7 separate regions of the Homo sapiens genome follow, and all the other regions are reported to be linked to region 4. The links are microRNA targets in miRTarBase. Many come from high-throughput screens and were not tested one by one. Region 4 holds a microRNA gene; each other region holds the end of a gene's coding sequence.

What was found. Region 4 holds the annotated microRNA hsa-miR-4478 (GAGGCUGAGCUGAGGAG, at 2,708-2,724, opposite strand). A microRNA usually pairs through its seed, bases 2 to 8, with sites in the 3' UTR of a target mRNA and lowers its output. Matches are read on the target gene's strand: a 7mer-m8 pairs with bases 2 to 8, a 7mer-A1 pairs with bases 2 to 7 and ends in A, and an 8mer does both.
Region 1: miRTarBase lists VPS26C as a target of hsa-miR-4478. Seed matches in the 3' UTR shown: 7mer-m8 at 2,897-2,903 and 7mer-m8 at 2,443-2,449.
Region 2: miRTarBase lists CGNL1 as a target of hsa-miR-4478. Seed matches in the 3' UTR shown: 7mer-m8 at 2,668-2,674.
Region 3: the mRNA of ZMYM1 is a reported target of hsa-miR-4478. The part of its 3' UTR that is shown has no 7-base or 8-base seed match.
Region 5: the mRNA of GPR75 is a reported target of hsa-miR-4478. The part of its 3' UTR that is shown has no 7-base or 8-base seed match.
Region 6: the mRNA of SCNM1 is a reported target of hsa-miR-4478. Seed matches in the 3' UTR shown: 7mer-m8 at 3,353-3,359 and 7mer-m8 at 3,104-3,110.
Region 7: the mRNA of NEK9 is a reported target of hsa-miR-4478. The part of its 3' UTR that is shown has no 7-base or 8-base seed match.

What each region holds. Positions count from the first base shown.
Region 1 is chr21:37,221,984-37,226,055 of GRCh38, forward strand. It overlaps VPS26C (VPS26 endosomal protein sorting factor C), which reads right to left. Exons shown (of 8, transcript NM_006052.2): 8 at 1,439-3,643. The coding sequence ends at 3,561. Among named protein-coding and RNA genes, the nearest start is that of DSCR9, 16 kb to the left of the region's middle.
Region 2 is chr15:57,546,853-57,550,924 of GRCh38, reverse strand. CGNL1 (cingulin like 1) reads right to left here. Exons shown (of 19, transcript NM_032866.5): 19 at 208-3,570. The coding sequence ends at 3,435. Among named protein-coding and RNA genes, the nearest start is that of GCOM1, 43 kb to the left of the region's middle.
Region 3 is chr1:35,114,993-35,119,070 of GRCh38, forward strand. ZMYM1 (zinc finger MYM-type containing 1) reads left to right here. Exons shown (of 10, transcript NM_024772.5): 10 at 1-867. The coding sequence ends at 267. Among named protein-coding and RNA genes, the nearest start is that of ZMYM1, 38 kb to the left of the region's middle.
Region 4 is chr9:122,117,440-122,121,517 of GRCh38, forward strand. MIR4478 (microRNA 4478) reads right to left here and starts at 2,728; the gene lies at 2,643-2,728.
Region 5 is chr2:53,849,756-53,853,833 of GRCh38, forward strand. GPR75 (G protein-coupled receptor 75) reads right to left here. Exons shown (of 2, transcript NM_006794.4): 2 at 3,157-4,078. The coding sequence ends at 3,379. The region is part of intron 1 of GPR75-ASB3 (GPR75-ASB3 readthrough); the gene reads right to left. Among named protein-coding and RNA genes, the nearest start is that of MIR3682, 2.6 kb to the left of the region's middle.
Region 6 is chr1:151,168,719-151,172,718 of GRCh38, reverse strand. It overlaps SCNM1 (sodium channel modifier 1), which reads right to left. Exons shown (of 7, transcript NM_024041.4): 7 at 2,423-3,733. The coding sequence ends at 3,634. It overlaps TNFAIP8L2-SCNM1 (TNFAIP8L2-SCNM1 readthrough), which reads right to left. Exons shown (of 7, transcript NR_144937.2): 7 at 2,423-3,733. TMOD4 (tropomodulin 4) reads left to right here. Exons shown (of 10, transcript NM_013353.3): 5 at 362-451; 6 at 956-1,086; 7 at 1,179-1,286; 8 at 1,656-1,799; 9 at 2,056-2,200; 10 at 2,616-2,732. The coding sequence ends at 2,638. Among named protein-coding and RNA genes, the nearest start is that of SCNM1, 4.6 kb to the right of the region's middle.
Region 7 is chr14:75,080,894-75,084,960 of GRCh38, forward strand. NEK9 (NIMA related kinase 9) reads right to left here. Exons shown (of 22, transcript NM_033116.6): 22 at 1-3,793. The coding sequence ends at 3,671. Among named protein-coding and RNA genes, the nearest start is that of ZC2HC1C, 13 kb to the left of the region's middle.

The DNA of each region.
Region 1 (4,072 bases), not on the chromosome of region 4:
CCATGTGTTCTCATTGTTCAGTTCCCACCTATGAGTGAGAATATGCGGTGTTTGGTTTTTTGTTCTTGCGATAGTTTACTGAGAATGATGATTTCCAATTTCATCCATGTCCCTACAAAGGACATGAACTCATCGTTTTTTATGGCTGCATAGTATTCCATGGTGTATATGTGCCACATTTTCTTAATCCAATCTGTCATTGTTGGACATTTGGGTTGGTTCCAAGTCTTTGCTATTGTGAATAATGCCGCAATAAACATACACGTGCGTGTGTCTTTATAGCAGCATGATTTATAGTCCTTTGGGTATATACCCAGTAATGGGATGGCTGGGTCAAATGGTATTTCTAGTTCTAGATCCCTGAGGAATCGCCACACTGTCTTCCACAATGGTTGAACTAGTGTACAGTCCTACCAACAGTGTAAAAGTGTTCTTATTTCTCCACATCCTCTCCAGCACCTGTTGTTTCCTGACTTTTGAATGATCGCCATTCTAACTGGTGTGAGATGGTATCTCATTGTGGTTTTGATTTGCATTTCTCTGATGGCCAGTGATGATGAGCATTTTTTCATGTGTTTTTTGGCTGCATAAATGTCTTCTTTTGAGAAGTGTCTGTTCATATCCTTCACCCACTTGTTGATGGGGTTGTTTTTTTCTTGTAAATTTGTTTGAGTTCATTGTAGATTCTGGATATTAGCCCTTTGTCAGATGAGTAGGTTGCGAAAATTTTCTCCCATTTTGTAGGTTGCCTGTTCACTCTGATGGTAGTTTCTTTTGCTGTGCAGAAGCTCTTTAGTTTAATTAGATCCCATTTGTCAATTTTGCCTTTGGTTGCCATTGGTTTTGGTGTTTTAGACATGAAGTCCTTGCCCATGCCTATGTCCTGAATGGTAATGCCTAGGTTATGGTTTTAGGTCTAACGTTTAAGTCTTTAATCCATCTTGAACTGATTTTTGTATAAGGTGCAAGGAAGGGATCCAGTTTCAGCTTTCTACATATGGTTGGCCAGTTTTCCCAGCACCATTTATTAAATAGGGAATCCTTTCCCCATTGCTTGTTTTTCTCAGGTTTGTCAAAGATCAGATAGTTGTAGATATGCGGCGTTATTATTTCTGAGGCACAGCCTCTTTCTTTCGTCTCCCTTTCCTTTCCTCATCTCTTGCTCTAATTGGAGAATTTGACAACTCTGAACCTCTGACTGTGGATAACCCCAACTCCAGCAAGCCTGGGCAAGAGTGGGACAGTTGCAGCCCAAGGTAGCCAAACATCTGAGTTTTGCCTAGTAACAGATCATGGAGAGGTCAGACCAAGAAGTGGAAGGAAGTGGCCGGCCTGAGGCCTTTGTTTGGGCCACTCAGGGTTGAATGAAATGATAAAGGTAGCCACGTTGTCTGGATGCGCTTCAGGTAATAATTATTCTCTAAGGAAAGCAGTCATATTTATATCCATAAAATCAGTTTATTAAATTACATAGCAATATACATCCCAAACCTTTTCTCAAAATTGTCATTAGCTTTTTAAATTCGTTAAATATTTTCATCTCATTAAAAATGGTTTCTTCCTTTAAAATTTCCCAGAAAGTGTGGCCTCTGTTTTCTGCTACTCAGTTTAAACACATCATCAAGGATAGATAATTAATGTCAGGTGAGCATAAAAGGAGATTATAAACCAGAAATGTGTTTTCTGGGAACCAAGTTTCAAGTGACTCAGATAAGTTTTATTAATTTCATGGGTGAAGCCCCTGGATAAAGCAGTGCCTAAATCAGGCTTGTTTACCCTTGGCATTATGTCACCAAACACTGTTTCAGGATACTGGAAGTACATACAGCTTGGGAGGTCTTTGGCCTGAGCCTGTTTTGGCCAAGCCCATCCAGAATGAAAAGTACAAAAGAAGGCTAGTGTGTGTGCAAAGCAGCATGGCTTATTTTGAGGTCCTATTAGTTGTGGGCCAACAAAACAGTGGCAGGATTTGAAGGAAGAAATGTATTGCAATAGTCCATATCCTTCGAACCACAAAGGGAGACTGAGGAAATGCTGGCTTTAGGCCAAAAAACCCTGGCTCAAAACAGCTTCCTCCAGTGGCTCAGAGGCAGACCAAATTCATCAAGTCAAGGACCTTTTCCTGCTACCACCTTGCGGAGAGGGGCCTTCACCAGCCCACCCTGCACATGGGTTTCTGCTGTTCAGAACCTACCCAGTAACAACAGGAGCAAACATACATGTTTTCCCCTCATGTAACTTTGCATTTAAATATATTCTGGGAAACTGCTGGGCACAGTGGCTCACACCTGTAATCTCAGCACTTTGGGAGGCCAAGACAGGAGGATCACTTGAGTCTAGGAGTTCAAGACCAGCCTGGGCAACATAGGGAGACCCTGTCTACAAAAAATTTGAAAATTAGCTGAGTGTGGTGGCACTCACCTGTAGTCTCAGCTACTCAGGAGGCTGAGGGGAGGGATCGCTTGAGCCAGGGAGGTTGAGGCTGCCGTGAGCTGTGATCCTGCCAGTGCACTCAGCCTGCGTGACACAGTTTGGAAAACTGTCTCTCTCTATGTATGTATCTGTTCAGGGAAATGGCAGCGTGAGATTTTATGGCAGTTCTTGAGACTTCAGAAACACTTCGGCACCAGCCAAATCCCCCCAAGAGAGCAAGGAACACTTTTCCAGTTGCTTAAAAAATTTAAAGTTATAATGAAAAATGTTGTAAAAAGAACTACAGAGGCTGGGTGTGGTGGCTCACACCTGTAATCCCAGCACTTTGGGAGGCCAAGGCGGGTGGGTCACGAGGTCAGGAGTTCAAGACCAGCCTGGCCAAGATGGTGAAGCCCCGTCTCTACTAAAAATACAAACATTAGCCGGGCACGGTGGCAGTCACCTGTAATCCCAACTACTCGGGAGGCTGAGGCAGGAGAGTCGCTTGAACCTGGGAGGTGGAGGTTGCAGTGAGCTGAGATCACTCCAGCCTGGGTGACAGACTGAGACTCCGTCTCAGAAACAAAACCAAAAAACTACAGAATAGAGTAGGGGTGGAGGGAAGTCATGCATTTCCAGTGGCTAGCACTTTGCGCTCTGCCTTGGCGAGTATCTGCAAACTTCCTGACCATCAAGTGCGCTTGCAGCCATCCTGGATGTCAACTGGCCACAGACCCTTTGCTATGGGGAGTCCCTGGCTACATCCATTAGCAAGTCAGAGGTTTCCTTTTGTCCCCATGATGCCACTCTCCAGCAAGCTCAAACTGCTGTCACAATTGTTTTACTGTACCTAAAAAGGAACAGATAAGGCAAGAGCCACAGTCAATGTTTTCTGTGAAATGGTCTTGGCAAATAGCATTAAGAAATCTTGTTGAATTTCAAAGAAAAGGTCTGATTAGAGGTGCCTGTTGGAAGCAGAAGCCTCAAGAAATGAGGAAGGAAAGTTAATTTGAGGGTCTGTTTCATTTCTGATACAGAATAATCACAAAAACAAGTATATGCCGCTGGCTGTAGCTCCCCTTAGGATTTGGATAACCAGCTGGATTTCCAGATGGCCACTCCCGTTCTCTATGCTTCCCTCCTCCGGGCTATATCCTGCAGAGCTTCAGCGGGAAGTTCTCCGTGATGAGGTGGTCAGGGTGAAGCAGCACCACGATGTTAACCTCAAATTCTGAGAAGAGAAGAGAGGGTGGGTTTGTGCTCACTGTTACCAAGCAGCGAAACCACACGCCGCCACCACTGCAGTCGCAGGAAGCTCTAACGGCGAAGGAGCACCCGGTGCGGGTGGGTTTCATTGCTGTCCCCTCAGCGCCACCCTGACCTTTCAGCCAAACTTTCAGTGGAGATGACTATGCTGATGTCTGACTACCTCTGTCAACTTTCTCTAAGTGAATTTTTGTCCTCTCATCTTGGAACATGAGTGATCAGGCTTCACCAACTACACTTTCCCTGTCCCTTTGCTTTCCTAAAAAGGATATTCTAGAACCCTTTCAATTCATTTGTATTCCTTTGCCTTATTTTTACATTTCCTACGGTTCTTAATGAAATAGCAGACTGTGAACCAGCGCATAGCTGTCTGGGCCCATGTCCCCAATCCCCA
Region 2 (4,072 bases), not on the chromosome of region 4:
CACAAGAATCCAGAGCCATTAATTCCCTCAGCATTCACCACTGACCAGTCCCCACCCTTCTGTTTCAGAAACCGGTCCCAGGGCTGGAAGGCCTCCAAGTTCCACTTCCCTCAGTAGCTCCCAGCCACTCACCTTGGCAGTTTCTTAAAGGACACAGAGCCAAGCTCTGGAGAAAACAAAGAAGTCACAATCACAGGAGAGTCAAAATTCCCATTGGGTGACAGCGTTTATTGAAAGGAAATCTTGCTTTATCCAGGAATTCACTCACATGGAGGTAGCTGCAAGGAGAATGTCTCTTTCTCATGACAACCAAAGCGACCAAACCATACCCTAAAGCAGAGACGCAATGGAATAAGTCAACGGGCATTGTAGAACGACACTCAGAAGCAGGAAAAACCATAAAAGATACAGGATGATTGTCTCTTCAGTATTGCATTTGGCCATGTATGTGTTTTTACATAAAATATATGTTTTCTTTTTAAGCTAGCTAAAGAAAATACTCTTGATCGGGGTTAGTTCTTAAAGCAAAAAACAGAAGAAAAGTATGTATATATAATAAAATTAAAGAACGATAGCATGTTATACCTGGAAAGGACCGTGGGCACTAATCTGCACTTTGTTCCAGGTAATCCATGGCTCTGAGAGTGAGCACACTGTCAAAGTCACTGGGGTGAGATGAGCCGGGACTTGAAAACCCTTCTCTTAACTTTCAGTCTCAACTCTTCCCACTCCACTATACCGCATGCGTTGCCAACTCCCTCAGAGTGTAGGATAGCGCAATTGTCAAAACGCATAACAGCCTATTTTTAGGGTAATGATGCAAGTGTTTTGAAAAGTGACCTGTGTTCTCTTTGCATGGGCAGTTTTGCTTCTTGTAGCCAGCCCCATGGCTACTGGAAAGAACTGGCCAGAATGAGGGGCAGCTACTTTCTCACAAACCAAAACAGACACACACTCCCAAAGTTCTTGGGTGTGCTGACCTTCCCCAGCAGCGTCTCTAGGTATGAGTGGGCTGAGGCTTCTCTCAGCAGGCTTACTGGCAGATGTCTAACGATGGGAGAAGCAGCAGGGAAATTATGAACATATTGAGGGTCAAAGTGAGCTCTAGGGAACCAGGCTTGTTGCGTCCTCAGAAGGACAGACAGAGGGCTGAGTACAGAGGTGCTCAACCTCCATGTCGATTTGATTGTCATTTATCACCCCCTTTCCTGACACTGAGCTCCAGGAGGGGAGGAATTTTTGCCTGTTTAATTCACTGCTGTATTCTGTGTGCCAAGGACTGTGCCTGACACATCACCGATGCCCAATAAATATGTGCTAAATGAATGAATGACTAAAGGGAGGAATCGGCCACACCCCACATAAGCAGGCAGAGGTGAGAATCACCCCTGGCTGTGGTGAGGATGACAGTGACCCTGTAGATGTGGAAGGGGCTTGGCTGTCTGGCTCCAGACTCCCACCCTTAAACTGGGCTGACCACTCTGAAACCTGCCGGGTGGGCTCTGACCTGGCACAGGTGGGACTCCATGGCTACTGTCATGGAGTCCTCTGGCCCACAGGCCCCCACCCTATTGGGATGGTTGGGGACACTGCTGAAGCAGCTGAACACTACCATCTCTGCCACATATATGTCACCAACTCACAGGGTCCTCTCCCTGACCATGTCCTGTCCCATATTCTGACCTGTGGAAGCCCAGCTGTGACTGGGCCTGGCCTGTGGGCATGCCTGGGGACTGTCACATTGTGAAGTGACACAGGAAGGCCAGGAGGGAGTCCCTGGATATGTAGCATCCTCCCGATGCTATGCTCCCTGAAATTCCTCTCCAGCCATGTGGCCTGGCCCCCAGACCTCAACCACTCCCTGCCAGCCTGCTGCTGGCGATGTCGCTTTGTTCCAGGAAGTTGGAAGGAGTCCTCCAGTTTGCACAGACACGCCTCTGCCTGACTTCTGTTTCTTTCTTCCCTTCCTCGACATAACCCTGAGATCCTGCTCAATCCACCTCTTGCCCACACATCCCCCAGCTTTCAAGAACTTCTCTGTCTTCCTTCTCACACTGGGCCCCATACCCACATCTGCCTATCTCCTCTCTCATCTCCCTTCCCCCATGACCTTACCAGACACCTCCCACCTCATTCTCACACCTAAGTCTATGAACCTTTCCCCCATACCCTCTTATTCCCCCGATCCCAAAAGCTTGCTGTGGGACATGACCACACAGCCCTATCCTTCCAGAAACGGCCTCATTTGTTTAAGGCCTTACCTACAACTCTCCCTACCCAACCTGTGTAAAAGAAATTGCAATCAGTGACTGGGAACAGGTCTCAGAACAGTTCAGAAATTATAACAGAATTCCAGATAAACTAAGCAAACAAGGCCATAGCTGCAGTCACAGACACAAGCAACCTTCTGGCTTTCCCCTGTGCCAGTGACTTGTTTACCCAGACCATGTGAACTGCTATGCTCAGTCTTAGCTGTCCATGACCACTACAATTCTTCTTTTCCAACTTTGGTTTCCAAACTGGTCTTTGACTTTATTTGACTTTCTCTCTCTCTCTCTCTTCTCACCTCTGCTCCTCAACACTTAAAATCTAATAGCTTCATATTTTAAAAAAGAATACTCAATGGCTGGGCGTGGTGGCTCATGCCTGTAATCTCAGCACTTTGGGAGGCTGAGGCAGGTGGATCACCTGAGGTCAGGAGTTCAAGACCAGCCTGACCAACATGGTGAAACCCCGTCTCTACTAAATACAAAAAATTAGCCAGGAGTGGTGGTGGTCATCTGTAATCTCAGCTTCTTGGGAGGATGAGGCAGGAGAATCACTTGAACCAGGGAGGCAGAGGTTGCAGTGAGCCAAGGTTGCGCCATTGCACTCCAGCCTCGGCAACAAGAATGAAACTCCATCTCAAAAAAAAAAAAAAAGAATACTCAATATAGATGCATGAACTTTACAAACCAGCCACCCTACCAAGCCTCCATCACATTCCAAACCCAACAGCAGCAGTTCGTGAGAAGGTCTGGTTTAAAATATGTACAAGCTATACATGGTTTCCTCCCTGCACAGTGCTATTAAGTAAGTCCTAGCCTTCTGGACCCTTTGTCTTGGCAGGGGGAGTGATGAGGGGGCAGGGACAGCAATGCAAATAGTGGCTGTGGAACAGGGGCCTCAGCCTACCAAAGTGTATCTCTCACAACACCCCAGTGGGTGGTGGCTCCTGGTCCTCAGGCATCCCAACATTTTAAACTGCAAAAGCTCTCTGTCGAAGACCCACTGAGAGACCCTGGCGAGGAATGTAACACTGAGGAGCTGGCATGCTGTGCAAAGAGGCTGTGATTGGTCTCAGTGGCAGACAGATGCTCCCCTCCCTGCCTCCCACTTTGGGTGGCTGCAGCTCCTGCAGGAATGACAGGTACTTCCACAGCCCGGGAGAGCACTCAGATCTGGCTGGCGACGGTGCTGTCCTTGGAGAATGTGTAGCTCACAGGCGCCTCATAGAGGCTTCCCCCATCCGTGCTGAGGTCATCGTCGTCATCCATGTCATCCAGCACTTTACTCGGCAGCTTCTTCAGTCTGCTGAAATGACAAGGGGCATGTTTCCTGGCCCTGGGCCGGGGCCCATAGCTAATTTGGACTTAAAGGGAGGGTTTTGGGTTGCTGTCCCTGCACCCCACTGAGTGGCACAGAAAAGAAACACATGAATGTAACAGGTCTCCACCTGATGGCCCCTTCAGCCACAGGGAGTCCACCGCCCCCATTTCGGCACGGAAAGCCTGTGCTGGTGGGGTGGGCCAGGCTGGGATAGGATCAGTATTGTTGATTTCCCCAGGCTGTTATTATTGATCTTGTCTTAATTTAAAATTTTGGTATCTTGTTCACCATGGATTGCATGCATTATCTTTTAAATATTGCATTAAAATGTTATCTATCTTAATTATTGAGATTTTTGGTGCCCTCTTAAATGCTGCACCCTAATGCCAACCTTGGGGCCAGTGACCTGATAGGCCCTGTTTTACAGGACTCTCAATGGGCTGGAGCCTTCTGTCCATTGATGAGAACTACCCGGGCAGCCAGC
Region 3 (4,078 bases), not on the chromosome of region 4:
ATTCAGCATGGTCTTCACAGTAATATTCCTTGTCTCTCAAAGCTATTATATATTGCTTTGTCTTGGCCAATTACTTCAGCAAGTACTGAGAACTCATTTTCTACCCTGCCTCGTCTTAAGACATATTTATGTAATACCATGGGACAAGAGAAGCTTACTGGCCCAGCCCTAATGGCTGTTGAGCAGGAGTTGGTAAATAAACTAATGGAGCCTGAAAGACTCAATGAAATTGTGGAAAAGTTTATCAGTCAGATGAAAGAAATATAATACATGCTCATTTGAACTTACCTAAAAGACTTGTATTTCCATTGGGATGTTTTCATTTCAAAATTGTTCAAAATTCAAAAGACACAGAACGATAAACAGTGAAGTCTCCTTCCCTCCTTTAGAACTCATTTTCTCTTCCCAAAAAGTGTTATCTTTTCCTTAAATATCCCTCTAGAGGTATTTTTCCTAAGTGGTATTGTACGGTGTATACTGTTCTTCAGCTTGTCTTCTCTGTGTAACATATTTTTGAGATTGTCCCATGTCGTTACATGAAGAGTTTCTTGATTCTTGGTCTATAATTGCAGATGTTATTGTATGAATGTACCATAATATATTTGAGCAGTCCCTGCTGACATTTTTTTCCTAACCTTTTGCTATTATAAATAATGATTCATTTTATAACCTTTTATATAGGTCACATTGCACATGAGTGAGTTTACTGTAAGCTGGAAATCTAAAGTTAGAATTACTAGGTTAAGATATGTGCATTTTTACTTTTGATAGATATTGGCAAGTTGCCATCTATAAGGATTGTGCCAGTTTACAGTCCCACCCACAATGCATGAGAGTGCCTATTAAATCTTTGTAAGTGTTATCAAATGTTTTGATCTTTCCTAATCTCTTACTTTAAAAATGGCGTTTTAATCTCAGTAGAATTTTGTATATTCACTTAAGAATAAGGTTGGGGACTGGGCGTGGTGGTTCACACCTATAATCTCAGCCCTTTGAGGGCCTACACAGGAAGGAAGATCGCTTGAGGCCACGAGTTCAAGATGAGGTTGGCAACATAGTAAGACCTCATCACTACAATTTTTTTTTTTTTAAATTAGTGAAGTGTGGTACTGCACACCCGAAGTCCCAGCTACTTGGGAGGCTGAGGCAGGAGGATTGCTTAAGCCCAGAAATTTGAGGCTGCAGTGAGCCATGATTGCACCACTATGCTCCAGAGTCTAGGCAACAGAGTGAGACCTTATCTCTTTAAAACAAACAAGAATGAAGTTAGGTATCTGTTTATTTGTTTGAGCCATTTGTATTTCCTTTTTTGTAGACTGTCCTGTTTAAACGTTAAAATCACTGCTGTGGTTTTGATTTATACATCTCAGCTGGATGGCACAATAAATTATTAAGCCATGTTATGAAAATATAACTATATTTAAGTAACCTGCAAAGAAAAGACTATTTCTTTATACTTCAAAAAAGTTTTGTTTTTGTTTTGAGATGGAGTTTTGCTCTTGTTGCCCAGACTGGAGTGCAATGGTATGATCTCGGCTCACTGCAACCTCCGCCTCCCAGGTTCAAGTGATTGTCCTGCCTCAGCCTCCCAAGTAGCTGGGATGACAGGCGCACGCCACCACGCCTGGCTAATTTTTGTATTTTTAGTAGAGATGGGGTTTCACCATGTTAGCCAGGCTGGTCTTGAACTCCTGACGTCAGGTAATACGCCCACCTGGGCCTCCCAAAGTGCTGGGATTATGGCATAAGCCACCACGCCCAGCCAGAAAAGTTTAAATAACAAAGAAAATGTGATATTCAAAGATTTGAAAGAATTAAGTGGTATATATATCTAGGCCTGGAATTTTTTTTTTTTTTTTTTTTTTTTTTGAGACGGAGTCTCGCTCTGTCGCCCAGGCGGGAGTGCTGTGGCGCGATCTCCGCTCACTGCAAGCTCCGCCTTCCGGGTTCACGCCATTCTCCTGCCTCAGCCTCCCGAGTAGCTGGGACTACAGGCGCCCGCCACTGTGCCCGGCTAATTTTTTGTATTTTTAGTAGAGACGGGGTTTCACCGTGGTCTCGATCTCCTGACCTCGTGATCCGCCCGCCTCGGCCTCCCAAAGTGCTGGGATTACAGGCGTGAGCCACCGCGCCCGGCCTTTTTTTTTTTTTTAAAGACTATTTCTCTGGCACTTTTCTCCAGCTGTTTCTCCCTTACCCTCTCATCAATTTTGATAACTTGTACTTTTTCTAGGAGAACATCTATTTCATTGAGGCTTTCTTTCAAATGCATTTGCCTAGAGTTGTAGAAAATATTCTCAGTATCTTCTATATACCTGTTTTACTTTCTTTCTTTCATTTTTTAAGACGGAGTCTCGCTCTGTTGCCCAGGCTGGAGTGTACGGTGGCGTGATATTGGCTCACTGCAACCTCCACCTCGCGGGTTCAAGTGATTCTCCTGCCTCAGCTTCCCAAGTATATGGGATTACAGGTGCCCACCACCACGCCTGGCTCATTTTTTTGTATTTTTAGTAGAGATGGGGTTTCACCATGTTGGCCAGGCTGGTCTCGAACTCCTGACCTCAGGTGATCCACCCACCTTGGCCTCCCAAAGTGCTGGGATTACAGGCATAAGCCACCATGCCCGGCCCTAATTTATTGATTTCCACCTTAAAAAAGAGAAAACAGGCCTGGCGCAGTGGCTCACACTTGTAATCACAGTACTTTGGGAGGCCGAGGCGGGCAGATCACTTGAGGTCGGGAGTTCAAGACCAGCCTGACTAACATGGAGAAACCCCGTCTCTACTAAAACTATAAAATTAGCCGGGCGTGGTGGCACATGCCTGTAATACCAGCTACTCGGGAGGCTGAGACGGGAGAATAGCTTGAACCCCAAAGGCTGTGGTTGCAGTGAGCTGAGATCGTGCAATTGCACTCTAGTCTGGGCAACAAGAGAGAAACTCCGTTTCAAAAAAGAGAGAAAATAGGCTGGGGACGGTAGCTCACGCCTATAATCCCAACACTTTGGGAGGCTAAGGCAGGCGGATCACAAGGTCAAGAATTCAAGACCAGCCTGGCCAACATGGTGAAACCCCATCTCTACTAAAAATACAAAAAAAATGAGCCAGGTGTGGTGGTGGGTGCCTGTAATTCCAGCTACTCAGGAGGCTAAGGCAGGAGAATCACTTGAACCCAGGAGGCAGAGGTTGCAGTGAGCCAAGATCGTGCCATTGCACTCCAGCCTGGGCGACAAGAGTGAAACTCCGTCTCAAAAAAAAAAAAAAAAAAGAAAATAGAAGTTAACTCTAGTATTGAATGTGTGTTGCATATATTTTCATTCTTTTAATGGAAGTGCTTAAGGCTATGAACTTTCCTCTAAAGTCAGCTTGGTCAACCATGTGTTTTTTCATTTTCATCATTTTCTAGCTGTTTTTAGTTGTAGTTTCTATCTTGTCATAAAATCAAGAAGTTGGGCCAGGCATGGTGGCTCACGCCTGTAATCCCAGCACTTTGGGAGGCCGAGGTGGGCGGATCACGAGGTCAGGAGATCGAGACCATGGTGAAACCCCGTCTCTACTAAAAAAAATTAGCCAGGCGCAGTGGTGGGTGCCTGTAGTCCCAGCTACTGGGGAGGCTGAGGCAGGAGAATGGCGTGAACCCGGGAGGCGGAGCTTGCAGTGAGCCGGGATCGCACCACAGCACTCCAGCCTGGGCCACAGAGCAAGACTCCATCTCAAAAAAAAAATCGAGGTTGGTGTTCTTGTTTTCATTTTCAAGTGTTTGTTTTCTATTCTTGTAGTCTATTATACAGCCAATAATGTAAAAAATAAACTTACATTAAGTATAACAGCTATCTTGGTTGAATGCCTATTAGCCTATTAAGTAACCTAGTACTTCCCTCAGTGTTTTACATATATTATTTCATTTAGTTCTCATAACAACCTATTATTTTACAGAAGAAACTAAAAAAACACATTATGGATTACACAACTAATAGGGGTGAAACTGGATTTGTACCCAGGTAGTCTGACTCCAAAGCCCATGCTGTCAATCACCATGCTCTACTACCTCTTAGACAACCATTATCACTTATAAATAT
Region 4 (4,078 bases):
TCAGATCTCGTGAGAACTCACTCACTATCATGAGAACAGCATGAGGGTAACCACCCCCGTGATTAAATTACCTCCCACCGGGCCCCTCCCACAACATGTGGGGATTATGGGAACTACAATTCAAGATGAGATTTGGTGGGGACACACCCAAACCATATCAGCCGCCTAGCTCAAACCTTAGGCCCATAACCTTAATGGCTGGCCTCCAGGGCTTAAAAAGTTCAGGACTGAATGAGGCAATGCATGTAATGTGCACTGTATCTGGAATTATCTCAGTGCTCAATAAATGGTATTATTAGTCTCAACAAACCTCTGCAACCCAAATGTTGGCCCTTTATGCAGATACAACAGGTTGTATCTCCCGTTGTTTCTGGGTCAGCTAATGGTTATGGCAGTCAGGCACAGTGGCTGATGCCTGTAATCCCAGAGCTTTGGGAGGCCAAGGGTGGAGGACCACTTGAGGCCAGGAGTTCGAGACCAGCCTGGGCAACATAGTGAGACCCCTGTCTCAAAAAAAAAAAAAAAAAAAACCATGGCTATTGAATGACTAGTCTGTGCCAGTTATCACATTTAATCCCATGAGAAATTTCCCCGCCCAGGTTGCAGAGGAGAAAAGAATGACTGAGGGAGGGGAAGGGACTGGCCCAGAGTCACACTGCCAGGCACAAGGCCAGCACCAGGCCATGGGGCTGTCTGCTATAGCACGACCCTCAGCGGGACCTGGGTGCCCAATGTCAGGCTCTCTCTGCCTCTGCAAGAAATGTCAGGGAGAAGATGACCAAGTGGTATTGGACAGAATGGCAGTGATGCTGAGGAAGAAACCAAAGGTGAGGGCCCTCTCCCTTTGTATTAAACGAAACTTTCCAGGCTTAGGCCCTGCAGCCTGTACGGTGTCAAAAAACAATTGTCATAAGTTGTCGACACTTGGAAACATTTAAACTTATGAGGTTTCACATTAAAATCTGTATTACTGCCTTCCTTTACAAATCTGGAAGAAGGAATGCATCTGTATAGGTGGGTAAGAGCAGGGGCTCTGGAGTCAGACTACCTGGGTTCCAATCCTAACTCTGCCACTAGCTTGCTGTGTGTCCTTGGCTGAGTTACTTAACCTCTCTGTGCTCTGCTTCCTTCGTCTGCATAACGGGGATAATAACAGCACTTTCACCAAGATTGTCATGGAGATTAAATAAGAAAGTGCCTATACAGCACTTCTTTAGAACAGCACCAGGCACAAAAGAAGCATGCAAAATGTTAGCTGGTGTTATTTGTAACTTTTTTTTTTTTTTTGAGACAGGGTCTTTCTCTGTCACCCAGACTGGAGTGCAGTGGCACAATCATGGCTCACTGCAGCCTTGACCTCCTGAGCTCAAGTGATCCTCCTGCCTCAGCCTCCCAAGTAGCTGGAACTACAGGCTTGAGCCACCGTGCCTGGCCGTTTGTATCATTATTTACAGTGTTTAGTATTAGGCAGTGCTGCCCCTGGATTCTGTCCCAGGCAGAGCTGAGTAATAGCTGCCCCTTTAGATGAAGTGTGACCTCTTCCATTGTCCACAGCCCACAACCCCAGGGACCAAGGCTGAGGTCCTAAAAAAGCCAACACTGTGTAGGGGCCTGACTCCTGGCTGCTATGTGACTTTGGACAGTCACTCCCTCTGTCTGGGCCAGTGTCCTCACTTATAAACCAGAGGCACAGGGCCCTGAAAACATTATGCTAAGTGAAAGAAGCCAGACACGGAAGGCCACATAATGTCTAATTCCATTCCTACCAAATGCCCAGAATACGAAAATCCATGGAGACGAACAGTGAATTAGTGGTTGCAGAGGCTGACGGAATGGGGAGTGACATCTCATGGCCACAGGGTTTCTTGTGGGGTCACAAAAATGTTCTGGAGCGCCATAGTGGAACCGGTTGCACAACCTTATGAACACAGTCATGCGTTACTTAATGATGGGGATACGACCGGGCACAGTGGCTCATGCCTGTAATCCCAGCACTTTGGAAGGCCGAGGTGGGCGGATCACCTGAGGTCAGTAGTTCGAGATGAGCCTGGCCAACATAGCGAAACCCCATCTCTACTAAAAATACAAAAATTAGCTGGGTGTGGTGGCACGTGATTGTAATCCCAGCTGCTCAGGAAGCTGAGGCAGAAGAATTGTTTGAACCCGGGAGGCGGAGGTTGCAGTGAGCCGAGATCGTGCCACTGCACTCCAGCCTGGACGACAGAGTGAGACTCCATCTCAAAAAAAAAAAAAAAAAAAAGATGGGGATACATTCTGAGAAATGTGTCACCGGGCAATTTTGGTGGGCAAACTTACATGAACCTAGATGGTGTAGCCTACTGCACAACTAGGCCACATGGCATAGCCTATTGCTCCTACACTATAAACCTGTACAGCATGGTACTGTGCTGAATACTGTCAGCAATTGTAATGCAATGCTAAGTATGTGTGTATCTAAATATATCTGGATGGTTTCCCTGCAGGTAACAGCTGGCTCTGATGTCCTAAGGAGACCCCAGCGCCATGACAAACCCAGGGATCTCTGATTGCTCCCAGCCTGAGTCGCTTCATATCCTACATGGGAGGCTGAATCCACAATCCCTCCTGCAGACGTACCCTCTCCTCTCCCTTGTCCCTGCAGAGGCCAGGGCTGCAGGGGATGAGGCTCGCCCCTAGTACTGCATGACCCTGTCTACAGGTTTGGAGGCTCCTCAGCTCAGCCTCGGCCCCTGGGCTCTTGTCTTGCTAAGCCCAGAGACCCAGCTCCCACTGGGCTTGGTGGCTGCTTGAAGTGGATCATGCCTTGCACCTCCCCCTCCTCTCCAGAATCTTCTATGTGTGCCGAGACTCCCAGAACAGGAGACATTTGGCTACATCACCCAAGATGGTGCCCACTTTCCATTGCCATGGGTCTAAGAAAAGGTGAAGTTCCCTCCCCCAGCCCTTCCCTGCCTGCTGAGGGATAGGACATGTGTCCCCATTTGCAGTGGATGCAGGGAGGGCTGGAGAAATGCTCTGTGCTCTGAGTAAGGCATGTTCCCCTGTAAGTGTGCCCATGACAGCTTGTGTATGCATATGTGCATGTATGGATATGCATGTTTGTTGGCAGGGATCTGTGCACATTTGTAGGTCTGCCTTTCTACCCGTCTTGTGTTCTGGACTGTGCACATATCTGCCTTGACAGACTTATCAATGTTCACACACTGGCTACACCTGTACCTTGTCTATATGTGTGGCTGCGTGCGTGAGTCTGCTGGAGCTCAGCACTTGTGTGGCTGAGCTGTTTACACCTGTCTGAATATGAGGGGTGTGTTCACGTGTCCCCTGAACGCACACTAGTGCATGTGTCCCTTCTGTGTGTGTCAAGGCAGGCCGCACGGCCATGAGGACCATAGCCCAGGCCTTGGAAGTTTTCCACGAGCTTAGACTCCAGCACCCACTGCACATGGCAAATGGCACCAGTGACCTGCCGTGGAAGGCACAGATGCCAGAGGGCACCACTACTCCAGCAGGAGCAACACCAACAAGGCCAGCACCAGCCCCACCCATGGCCTCCAGAGATCCTGGAGCCTGGAGGGCCCAGACGAGCTGGCAGCTCCAGGCTCCAGGCTCCTCAAGGTCCCACAGACAGGCCAAAATCCAGACAGCGGGAAGGGACAGCACAAGCCGGAGCCTGGGGACCAGAGGCAGTTTGGGGGTGCTCCATGGGGCCACACCCCAAGCCTGCTCTACATATTCTTCTAGGGCTCCAGAAGTGGGGAAAACCACAGGTGGGGAAGGCTGCCCCACAGGTGTACAGGTACAGGTGTGAGGCTGACATAGGTGGGTGAAGGATCAGAATCAAGAAGAGGAGATACTTCCTGCCTGATGAGTCTCTAGCTGTCCCCTCCAGGGCGCAAAGCCCCAGCACCTCCTTCTCTCCTGTCTTTGGGGCACCCAGCCATGGCCCCAGCCCCTTGGGCTCCAGCAGCAGCAGCAGATACAGGAGGCTGAGGCTCAAGTGAGAGTGGCTAGAGGGCAAGTGAGCTGAGCAGGTGGAGGCCAGACCACCCTTTCCCATCCCAGCTGGCCCGGGCCA
Region 5 (4,078 bases), not on the chromosome of region 4:
CTTTGTTAAAAAGAGATAATAGGCCAGTGCACTGGCTCACGCCTGTAATCCCAGTACTTAGGTAGGCCGAGGTGGGTGGATCACAAGGTCAGAAGTTTGAGACCAGCCTGGCTAACTTGGTGAAACCTTGTCTCTATTAAAAATACAAAAATTAGCTGGGAGTGGTGGTGCGTGCCTGTAGTCCCAGCTACTCGGGAGGCTGACACAGGAGAATCGCTTGAACCTGGGAGGCGGAGGTTGCAGTGAGCCGAGATTGTGCCACCGCACTCCATCCTGGGCAACAAGCATGAGACTCCATCTTAAAAAAAAGAAAAGGGAAAAAGGGAAGGAGGGAGGGAGAAAGGGAAAGAAGGAGGGAGTAGGTAGGCAAATCAGTCTAAAAGGTGAACTTAAAAACAAAATAATTCGAGGCTGCCCCTGGGTGTGGCAAGAAAAAAATTTAGAAGAAAAAGAAAACAAAAGAAAATCTATGCCTATTTAAATCTCAAAAATAGAAATAACTGATCAATACTGAAAGGTAACAGTTATAAGATAAGGTTGAGCAGAGTTCTAATTGAATATCTATTCTGTCTTCTCTATACCTCTCATGACCCCTGTATTTGGGGAGAGCTGAGGGAGGAAACTATAAATTAAATGCCTTTCAGCTGGATGTGGTTTCTCATGCCTGTAATCCTAGCACTTTGGGAGGCCGAGGTGGGTGGATTACTTGAGGCCAGGAATTCAAGACCAGCCTGGCTATCATGGTGAAACCCTGTCTCTACCAAAAATACAAAAATTAGCCAGGAGTGGTGGCGGGCACCTGTAATCCCAGCTACTCTGGAGGCTGAGGCAAGACAATCGCTTGAACCCGGGAAGCGGAGGTTGCAGCGATCTGAGATCATGCCACTGCACTTTAGCCTGGGTGACAGAGTAAGACTCTGTTTCTACAAAAAAAAAAAAAGACTTTTACGCAAAGGAACAAAGTACCTTCCAATCTGCAATAATAACTCTTGAATATAACAATTTATAAAGATAGGTGTTGTATATTGATGCTCATCTTGTGTGTCTAACATTTAAAAACCTAGTGAGTTCAAATACTAACTGTATACTGAAAATATTTTTACAATAAAATATGAGTTCACAGTTGTTATGCTAGGAATCTCAGAGCATATAGTAAAATTAGTTTCAGGTATAGAAATACTTAAATCTATTTTTTCTTTCTGCCCATTTCCACTTTAAGATTAATGGGAGAGAAATAAAATGATTAGTTTGAAAATAGATTATCTTGAGAATTTTTCTACCATAATAATAAATAAAGACAAAAAAGAAGTCATTTCTAAATAGTTACTTGAATACTGTCAGGTGGTTAGTAAACTCTTCTCACACAGAAGGAAAACATAAATCAAAACATTCCCAGTCTTATCTGTAAACCTTGTTAAGCAATAATAAATATTGCCCAATGCATGACAGGAGTCCACACTGTTTTCCACAGAACACCGAGATGATTACCGCAGTGCCTTCTCTCCTGGGAACAGTGCACCTCTACCATAGATGCAGTCCTCTTCACTAGGCTTCTTGAATAAGATCATTCAGAAACAATTCACTTTTGGGCCAGTTGGGGTGGCTCATGCCTGTAATCCCAGCACTTCGGGAGGCCGAGGCAGGCAGATCACCTGAGGTCAGGAGTTCAAGACAAGTTCAAGACCTGTCTCTACTAAAAAATACAAAAATGAGCTGGGCATGGTGGCACACGCCTGTAATCCCAGCTACTCAGGAGGCTGAGGCAGGAGAATCACTTGAGCCCGGGAGGCGCAGGTTGCAGTGAGCAGAGATCATGCCACTGCACTCCAGCCTGGGCAACAGAGCAAGACTCCCTCTCAGGAAAAAAATAAATAAATAAATAATTCACTTTTAACAAGCAAAAATATATTTCTTTTCTTTCTTTCTTTCTCTTTTTTTCATTTTTTTGAGATGACATCTCGCTCTTGTCACCCAGGCTGGAGTGCAATGGCACGATCTCAGCTCACTGCAACCTGTCTCCCAGGTTCAAGCGATTCTCTTGCCTCAACCTCCCGAGTAGCTGGGATTACAGGTGCTTGCCACCATGCCTTGCTAATTTTTGTGTTTTTAGTAGAGACGGGGTTTCATCATGTTGGCCAGGCTGGTCTCGAACTCCTGACCCTCAGGTGATCCACCCGCCTCAGCCTCCCAAAGTGCTGGGATTACAGGTGTGAGCCACCATGCCCGGCCCAAATATATTTCTTTTCAAAAGAATTGTAAACCTACTCAACTGACATAAAACATGTCTATAATAAGAAATGGCAATAATCATAATACTATATTCTTAGTTGACTGTCCTATGAAAGAAAAGTACCTAATACCTGTGTGAGTGTTTTTGGTAAAGACAGAGTTATCACCTTTTCTGCCTTAAGAATATATATATTTCTGGCTAAGCACAGTGGCTCATGCCTGTAATCCCAGCACTTTGGGAGGCCGAGGCAGGCGGATCACCTAAGGTCAGGAGTTGAAGACCAGCCTGACCAACACAGAGAAACCCTGTCTCTAATAAAAATACAAAAATTAGCCGGGCATGGTGGCATGCGCCTGTAATCCCAGCTACTTGGGAGGCTGAGACAGGAGAATCACTTGAACCCGGGAGGTGGAGGTTGCGGTGAGCCGAGGTCATGCCATTGCACTCCAGCCTGGGCAACAAGAGTGAAACTCCGTCTCAAAAAAAAAAAAAAAAAAAAAAAAAAAAAAAGAATATATACATTTCCTTTAGAGACAGGGTCTTGCTGTGTTGCCCAGGCTGGACTCATAATCCCGGGCTCAAGTGATCCTCCTGCCTCAGCCTCCCAAGTAGCTAGGACTACAGGTGCATGCCACTGCACCCAGCTAACAATATATTATTTATTCAAATCAACCTGCTACCAACAAGGTGTAGTGTTCCCGATTTCAACACTTCAAAAAATCAAAATTTACAATTCAATTAATAAAAATAACACCTCAGCAAAAATCATATTTTCACATTCTTTAAAAAAAATCCAGTCAATACCTTATTTTGAAGTCACATAACACTGACTCAAATCATGATAATCGGTTGACTTTCTACTTTAACACAGTAGCTTCATTCCTGGCATCTATTTAAAGGCTCGGTACAAAAGACTGAGGCAAAGAGCAGGGTAAAAAATCTAAAACTTTCACATCAAATCTTAAGATGTCAACAAACTACAAAGCAAATCAACAGATACTGACACATCAGATGAAAGAAAACCATAACTGCCAACTTTTCAGTTGAATCTTGTAGGTTTTGATCCGCCACTGATCTCAAGTTAGAATAAAGTCCATTACTATCAGAAACAAAAACTGTTTACATAAGATCCTATAGCCTCCATGACTTTAAACGGAGGGGACTGGAATCTGCTTGGCTGAAGTGCTGTCATATTCCTGCACTAAGTCATTAGTGGTGTGATAATGCATGGCAATATATGAATTGGCAAATCCAAAAGAGTTTACTGGCTGTAAGTTACATGGGCTGCTCTCCTCCTGGGAAGGGCTGCTGTTATAGATGCTGTAGTAAGGTTCAATCCGAGTGTTGATGGGGGTCGAGCTGCTCTGACCACAGTGTTGATGTCCAGCAGAGATCTTGGGACTCACCATACTTTCTTTTGAATGACTTGGGCCACAAGCCTGGTCCACAAATTTCTTCTGTGGCTTTGGAGATAACATGTAGGCAGAGTTTGTTTCATGATGGGAGGATTTGTTTCTGTTGACTTCGAGGTTCCCTTTTCCCATGGCTCGAAGTCGAGTCTTTTGTTTGCAGCAGAAAAAACCCAGGCCTATGTATTGGAGGCACCAGAGCACTTTCCTTCTCAGCCCTGCACTGTTCCGAGAATATATAAAAGGGTTTAATCCTGACTTGAAAAATATAAGAGTAAATCCAAACAATTCAAACTGGTAAAGAATGAAGCTCCCATTGCTGGAGAGAACCACCTGTACCAAGGAAATCCCCAGTGGAAGACAGCACACCAGGACTGACAGCACAATGATCACACAGGTGACCACGGCTTTGGAATCCTTGGCAGTGGAGAGGTTGATG
Region 6 (4,000 bases), not on the chromosome of region 4:
GGAGGTGGCAGTGAGCCAAGATCGCACCACTGCACTCCAGCCTGGGGGACAGAGTGAGACTCCGTCTCGGGGGGAAAAAAAGTGGAACCATTCTGGCTGAAAGAGGAGAGTCTCTACAGACTCCTTTATCCTCTAGTGGCTCATAAGGGACCTTCCCTTAGCCCTTTCTCAATGTTTTAGAAACTACTGCCTTAAGAAGTTTATGGAAAGGACCCCTGGGGCTGAAAGAGGGTGGGAAACTTCTTTGGCAAAGTGTAAGTGGTCAGGCTTTACAAATGCAACAGATTCAGAAATAGGTAGGAGGGAGGCTTGGAACAGGTTCCTTCTCATTCCCTGTGACTCCTCTTCTTACCCTCTCCAGCAATTCTGGACATGTACACACTGATGAGTAACAAGCAATACTATGATGCCCTCTGCAGTGGAGAAATCTGCAACACTGAAGGCATTAGCAGTGAGTGTGTTTGGGGAGCATGGTCCCCAGGGCTCTGGGCAGGCAGTCCTAGTGTCTGGGAGAAGGTAGAAAAGGGTGAAATTGATGATTCTGGGAGAGGACATGCTGCATGAGTGATAAGAAAACCTGTGGAGTGCCAGGTGAGGTGGCTCATGCCTGTAATCCCAGCATTTAGGGAGGCCGAGGCAGGTGGATCACCTGAGGTCAGGAGTTCAAGACCAGCCTGGCCAACATAGTGAAACCTTGTCTCTACTAAAACTACAAAAATTAGCTGGTTGCATGCCTGTAATCCCAGATATTATACTTGGGAAGCAGAGGCACAAGAATTTCTTGAACCCGGGAGGTCAAGGCTGCTGTGAGTTGAGATTGTGCCACTGCATTCCAGCCTAGGTGGATAGAGCGAGACTCCATCTCAAAAAAAAAAAAAAAGAAAAGAAAAGAAAACCAATGGGGAGGAGATTATGGGGAACATGTTGGGGTTCCCTTCCTGCCCTCATTCACCAGGTGTGGTACAGCCTGACAAGTATAAGCCAGTGCCGGATGAACCCCCAAATCCCACAAACATTGAGGAGATACTAAAGAGGGTCCGAAGCAATGACAAGGAGCTGGAGGAGGTGAACTTGAATAATATACAGGTATTTGACTTGCATCCTCCAAACCATAACACCGGATAACCACTGACATCCGAGAGTCCCTTAGCCCACCATCTCCTATTCCCCTCCGATAGGACATCCCAATACCCATGCTAAGTGAGCTGTGTGAGGCAATGAAGGCAAATACCTATGTGCGGAGCTTCAGTCTGGTAGCCACGAGGAGTGGTGACCCCATTGCCAATGTAAGGCTAGTTGACATCCCCAGCCCTCTCCCCACATCTTACATGCACCTGTTGCATGGCTGTCATAAAGGGTTTTGCTAGGGAGTGCTATTCTCATCATGCCTTCTTAGGGCAGCCCTCATGGAGACTCCTACCTTCAGTGCTATGGCTCATAACTCTCTACTCTCTCTAACACCCCTAGTCCCACTGCACATTCATCTCCCTGCTTTCCCCTGCTATCCGCCCTGCTTTCTGTATCCCTCTAGCTCCATTTACAGCACCTGAAAGACTCTTCTCAAAGAGCTGTGTTTCCCTCTTGCTCCTGTTCTTTCTTTCCTCAGTCATCTGTGAAACTGTTCCCTAATCCTAACCCAAGTCCCTACTACCCAGGCAGTGGCTGACATGTTGCGTGAGAATCGTAGCCTCCAGAGCCTAAACATCGAATCCAACTTCATTAGCAGCACAGGACTCATGGCTGTGCTGAAGGCAGTTCGGGAAAATGCCACACTCACTGAGCTCCGTGTAGACAATCAGGTCAGCATTCCCTTCCCCTGATGTTAGCATTCAGTCTCATTGAGTCTCCTCCCTGAGCCAGCCAGTGGGGCAGCTATCTTACTTAATCTTGCTTGAATTCTCCTCTTCATTGTCTCTGTGAGGGAAGCCAAGTCAGCATCTCTCTTCACCCACTGTGGAGAAACAAGCTTCTTTGACCTCCCAAAGGGGTCTGTGATGTGGGATGGTAAACAGCCCAGAGAGGGTGACTGTCAGCTTTTGCCTCTCCCTCCCCCAGCGCCAGTGGCCTGGTGATGCAGTGGAGATGGAGATGGCCACCGTGCTAGAGCAGTGTCCCTCTATTGTCCGCTTTGGCTACCACTTTACACAGCAGGGGCCACGAGCTCGGGCAGCCCAGGCCATGACCCGAAACAATGAACTACGTGAGTAACTGCAGACATGATGTGTGGAGTGGTCAGGGAAGTGCAGAAATTGGTGGATCCTCCTGAAAGCAGACCTAATGACTAACAGCCCAGGGTGCTACCAAAGAGCTATTCATATGAGAATTTCAAATCCCAAGAGTGATCAGAAAGTAAACAGAAAACTCCCCCTGCCCCAAATATGGACCAGTAGAGAGGTAGAAAGGATGCCAGAGATAATCATACTTGTTTAGAGGTATCGTAATTTTATTTGTGGTGTGGTTTCTTGTTTTGTTTTGTTAATGTGGGATGGGCCTGTAAGGTGGCCTAAGACACTACCAATTTATGAGTTTGGCTAAGGGACTGGAAAGGAGAAGAGTGCCTTTGCAGAAAGCAGGAGCTGGAACAAACACTTATGTTTAATATTGCTCCTTTACAGGTCGCCAGCAAAAGAAGAGATAACACTGCATTTCCCTTTACCAACTAGCGCTGGGAGCACTGGACACTTAAATCCTCATCTGTCCTCCTTTCCTGTAAATAAAAGCCCTTCTATCCATTTTGCCTGCCTCCTTCCTTGGGCTTTGGGGTGAGAATCTTGGCGCTAACCCCCAAGGGTTACTGCCAGTTCACCAGGGGATTATTTATACTCTGGGGATCAGCAGGCAGGGAGGTTCAGGTTACTAGGAGGAGGTGGGGGTGTTCCCTCCCTTGGTGTTCCCCATAACCCTGCCAATGCCTTTTGACTCTTCTACTTTCACAGGGAACTTAGCCACAGCCCTGTTTCCAGATGTGGCCAGGTCCCCCTAGTGCCTACCTGCAGTCCTTATGTGATTTGAAGGGGGAAAGGACTTTGAGTGGTAGTGGAGAAGCAGGCAGACAACATGAAGGGCAAAGACCTCTTTTTGACAGTCTTATTAATAGGGCACCAGGCTGATGCAGCTGACGCTTGGCATGGCTTTGGTAGGAGGTGGGGGAGGGGTTAGAAGTATGGATAGCCGTGGCTGGGTGCGGTGGCTCATGCCTGTAATCCCAGCACTTTGGGAGGCCGAGGTGGGCGGATCACGAGGTCAGGAGATCGAGACCATCCTGGCTAACACAGTGAAACCCCGTCTCTACTAAAAATACAAAAAATTAGCTGGGCATGGTGGCGGGCGCCTGTAGTCCCAGCTACTCAGGAGGCTGAGGCAGGAGAAAGGCGTGAACCTGGGAGGCAGAGCTTGCAGTGAGCCGAGATCGTGCCACTGCACTCCAGCCTGGGCGATAGAGCGAGACTCTGCCTCAAAAAAAAAAAAAAAAAAAAAAGGAGTGTGGAGAGCTGTGTACCTTGCAGGCAAGGAGTAGTTGGAATGAGAATGAACAGATCTGAAATCCTGAGATCCAACAAGGAACCAGACTTAAGGAAAGTTAAGTTCTCAGCACCCATTGTAATTTATTTGTGAATGAATGGGAAAAGGGTATCAGTCCAAGGGGAGATCAGGTGGTTCCTCCTCATCAGAGTCAAACTCAACATTTTCATCTTTTACCCATCGACCTCGTCCATCTGGGATCCATCCAGAGCTGGAAACATCAGAGAAAATAGCATCGATCAGGAAAGAGGCTTATTAAGAAGTTAGTGGTGAGCTCACACCAGTAATCCCAGCACTCTGGGAGGCCGAGGCAGGTGGATCACTTGAGGTCAGGAGTTCGAGACCAGCCTGACCAACATAGTGAAACCCTGTCTCTACCAAAAAAAAAAAAAAAAAAAAAAAAAAAGTTAGCAGTGAGAAAAAATTGAGAGCCATGTAAGTTGGGTGGCTAAAACAAAACGAAACCAAAGATGGAAAA
Region 7 (4,067 bases), not on the chromosome of region 4:
AGTGCTGGGATTACAGGCGTGAGCCACCGCGCCTGTCCTGCCAAGACAGTATTTTTTTTTTTATTTTTGAGATGGAGTCTCACTCTGTCGCCCAGGCTGGAGTACCGTGGCGCAATCTCAGCTCACTGCAAACTCCGCCTCCTGGGTTCACGCCATTCTCCTGCCTCAGCCTCCAGAGTAGCTGGGACTACAGGCACCTGCCACAACACCCAGCTAATTTTTTTGTATTTTTAGTAGAGACGGGATTTCACTGTGTTAGCCAGGATGGTCTCGATCTCCTGACCTCGTGATCCGCCCGCCTCGGCCTCCCAAAGTGCTGGGATTACAGGCGTGAGCCACTGCGTCTGGCCCGAGACAGTATTTCTTAACAGCAATGTATGTAATGCAGCACAGCACCTTCTGGCCAATGTTTGCTTTCATTATCAATTTATCACTCTCCACAGCTACACAGGTGGTAACAGAGATGTGACATAGTGGAGTTTTTCTCCCTAATGTTCATCATTCTGTGAGGTTTAATGATCAGCGTGTTTATTTCCACAGTTAATCATTGAAACAATAAATGATTTTTGGCTTTGCAGCAGTTAGGAACATGTTTTATAGTCCTGATTATAGCCCACTCTGCCCTGACCATCATGAATACTTTTTTGGAGGTTTAGGGATTTCATGTGAATGAATTTATTTAAAATGTATTCTTGCCCCTGAATTGTTCTATTATGAATGTTTGTGAACATATGGCAAGTGAAATGAAATTTTTTAGTGTACTTTTGCTTTAAACTTCAGTGAAATGCTCAGCCAAGAGAAGTTGTAACTTGGCTGTGCTATGCCAGGGAGACCAAATTCAGTTCAATCTCTTTGAAGGAAAAGTTTTACAAACCATAAACTGGCATTATCACTTGGAAAGGCCCCCACTGAGACTGAGGAGGTAGGTACAAGAAAGGATCATCCTTCTTTTAGTGGCTCATTTTTTCCCTCCCTCTGCACTTTCGGCACTTTTAGACATTTTTGGGAAAAAAGCTGTAGCAGCAGCAATGATTCTGCTGGCAAGAATAAGAAACTGGAGAGAAGCAAAGAATATTTCTGTGCAGATGTCCCTTGCATTGTTTCTGTTCCAAGAACATTATTTATATAAAGACTCACAGAATCAAAGATTCACGGAGGCTTAGAATCTGGATGTTTTATCCCCAGAGACTAAGGTCCATGCACAGGCTTACTGAAGCACAGTACTGATTAAGAGCTTAAATGTTTATTTAAAACAGAAATGCCAAACCACTCCACTCTCAACCTTTCAAGCAACCTGGCTAACAATAAACTAGTTCTTCTGCAACAATGTTAGAGCAGAGGAGTAACTCAGGTTATACTGTAACTCAAAAGCAATACTACTAGAAAACTTAAAACACCTAGCACTGCATAAAGAAAAAAAGCAGGACAAAATTTAAAGAGAATTAGCTACAGAAAACCATTCAAAGGCATTTCTACTGCCTCATCTTTTACTCCATCCCCCTTTGAACTGGTTTCTGTTTGCATACTTGTTTGGTGGGAAAAAAAATCATATGGCTGTCCCAGGCACAATATGGGAAAGTGCAAACTGTCTCTAAGGCACAGAACTTAGATTCTCAGCCAGATTAATAGCAAATCTAGACTTCCCAAGGGAATATGCTAGAGAAAATGACCACAGCGTTCCACTGCTAGGGAAAGGCTCCCCTATGAACAAGACCAGGGCACTCACCCACCCCCGGCACTCACTTTCACCCCACCTTCTCAGCAACCTGCCCATGTCCATCAGCTCCATGGCAGAAGCAATCCTCATGATGAACACCCAAACTGACCCAGCCTCTCAGGCCTGCTGAGATGATGAGCATGAGGATACAGGGACATGACAGGTCAATCGGTCCTCAAGAAAATCAAAGTTGCATTTACATGCTGAACCAAAACCCACTGTTACAGTTTATGACAACCCCCGCAAGTCCCCAGAACTTGCAACTTTAATCAAAGTTTGGCTGCTTCCCTTATTTCAAGAAAAGGTTTCAGTGATTACATTAGTACTAATGTACTAGGCTTCCCAGAACTGAGAAAACAATGGGAACATCAAACCAAAGAAGATCCCATTGAACAGAGTTGCCTGTCCCGAGCAATGGGGTTCTCCCCAAGCATCAGCCTTTATGCCACCAGTTTTGGAGAAATGGCAAAATTTCCATTGCACAAGACCTCCCACAATGTTGATAAGATTATCAAACATTTTGGTCTGGGGAAGATGAAACAAAATTAATTTAGCTGTTTATAGGAAGGTGGGATGTGAGACTCATCAAAGGTAGGATGTGTGACACAAAATACCACAGGAACATTTTACAAGGCTAGGTGGAAATACAAAGCTCACATCCTTAAGGAAACCATCAAATACTTGCCTAGAACTTTCTATATGAAGTTTTGTTCTTCTATGACACTATTTCTCTTTGGTAAAGCTAGCTTGTTTCTATCTACAAAGACACAGTGAGTACAGGATTAGAAGTGAGCTCTCAGCCAAATTCCTTTTGCAAGTTCTACCTGTTCTGTTAGGCTTCAGGGACTCCCAGGGTTTGGTGCTGGCTTTGGGCCACTCAGGTAGGAAAAATGATACAGATTCATTCGTTACCACATGGCTTCATAAAACACCAAAAGGGGAAAAATACTGACTAGACATTCAGAAAGAAAGTGGTTGGGGCTGCTGATATCAAGATCAGAACCCTAAGAGCCATGAAGGCAGAGGCTCAAAGAAGTCTTTTCATGGGCAGAAGACTGAGAGCCCTCTAAGCCCTCTCTAAGATACCAAGTAGAGGCAGCTAAAGGAGGACCTCTTCTCCTTCATGATTTTCTCTTAAGGCTATTCTGACTGCCCCATGGACTCAATTCTCTGAGACACCTCATCCCTCAGAGACACCTCATCCCCTCATCCACAGTTAGGAAATCCCACCCTGCATTGGTCACAGCCTGAAACACCAGCTGTGTGATGAGGAGGGTCCTGCCCTTTCTCTATTCCTCACTGAAGAAATTTCAATCAACCCTCAGAGGAAAAGCAACCTAAGCCTACCTTTCCTCCTAAAGCATTTAGCTGCACAGAGTAACTGAACTTTTTCGAAACAAGCCCTAGATTGACTCCATCAGACATATTTTCCTGGACTCAGGGCTCCCAAGAGGGCCAGACTACTTCACCACTCTGCAGAGGACACTGGGCGGGCCACACCTGATTCCAGCCCACTCCAACTTTACACTTCTCCCTCTCCCACCCAGAGGGGTAATGCCTGGTACTGAATTCCCAAGGCAGCTTCCAATCAATGGTGAAAATGATACATGGGATATAAGCTGCTACCAGCGCAATTAAGGTGAGCACTGTGTCTCCTCTTCAAAGGTGGGATCAACAGATGAGGTACAGAGCTGCTGTTGCTATGGCAGTCACTGATGACAAAGCCAGGGCCATGGGGGCCCTTCCATTCTCCAAAACAATAAAATCACTCCTAGATCCTATCTAAAAGGCAATGCCACTCTCCAAATGTACAAGGAAAGTGCTTCAGAGCCTCTGCCTTGCGCTCCTTTTCTGCAAGTGAACAAAGCCAGGAAAGCTGCTCTCTGCATTCGGTAAGTGTGCTGTGAAGTTCTTTGGGTCCCAGTCTCCTGGGGGCTCTACAGGCTCAGGAGACTAGAGGCTGGGTCTACAGGAGTCTGTTCCCAGGAGGCACCAGGAATCTGAATCTAAGTCAGGCTTTGGATCCATTTCCATCTCTTCCTTTGCTGTCTGAGTTCCTTTGGAATGCATCCCCACCTGTCCGGATAAAACACGGTTCCACATTAGCAACAGTGCCACCTAGTCACAGAAGTAGTTCAGTACTATATTTTCAATGCCAACTTCTAAGGCATTGGCTAAGGCGTGGCTAAGGATTTGTAGCCACGATCTTGTGAGACGCTCATGGCACTATTTTAGATACAGTCCATACCTTTATATTTACTGCAGGTAGGGTGACCAACTATCCAGGTTTGTCCAGGACTGCGGGGTTTCCTGGGATGCAGAACTCTTAGTTTTAAAATGGAAAAAGTCC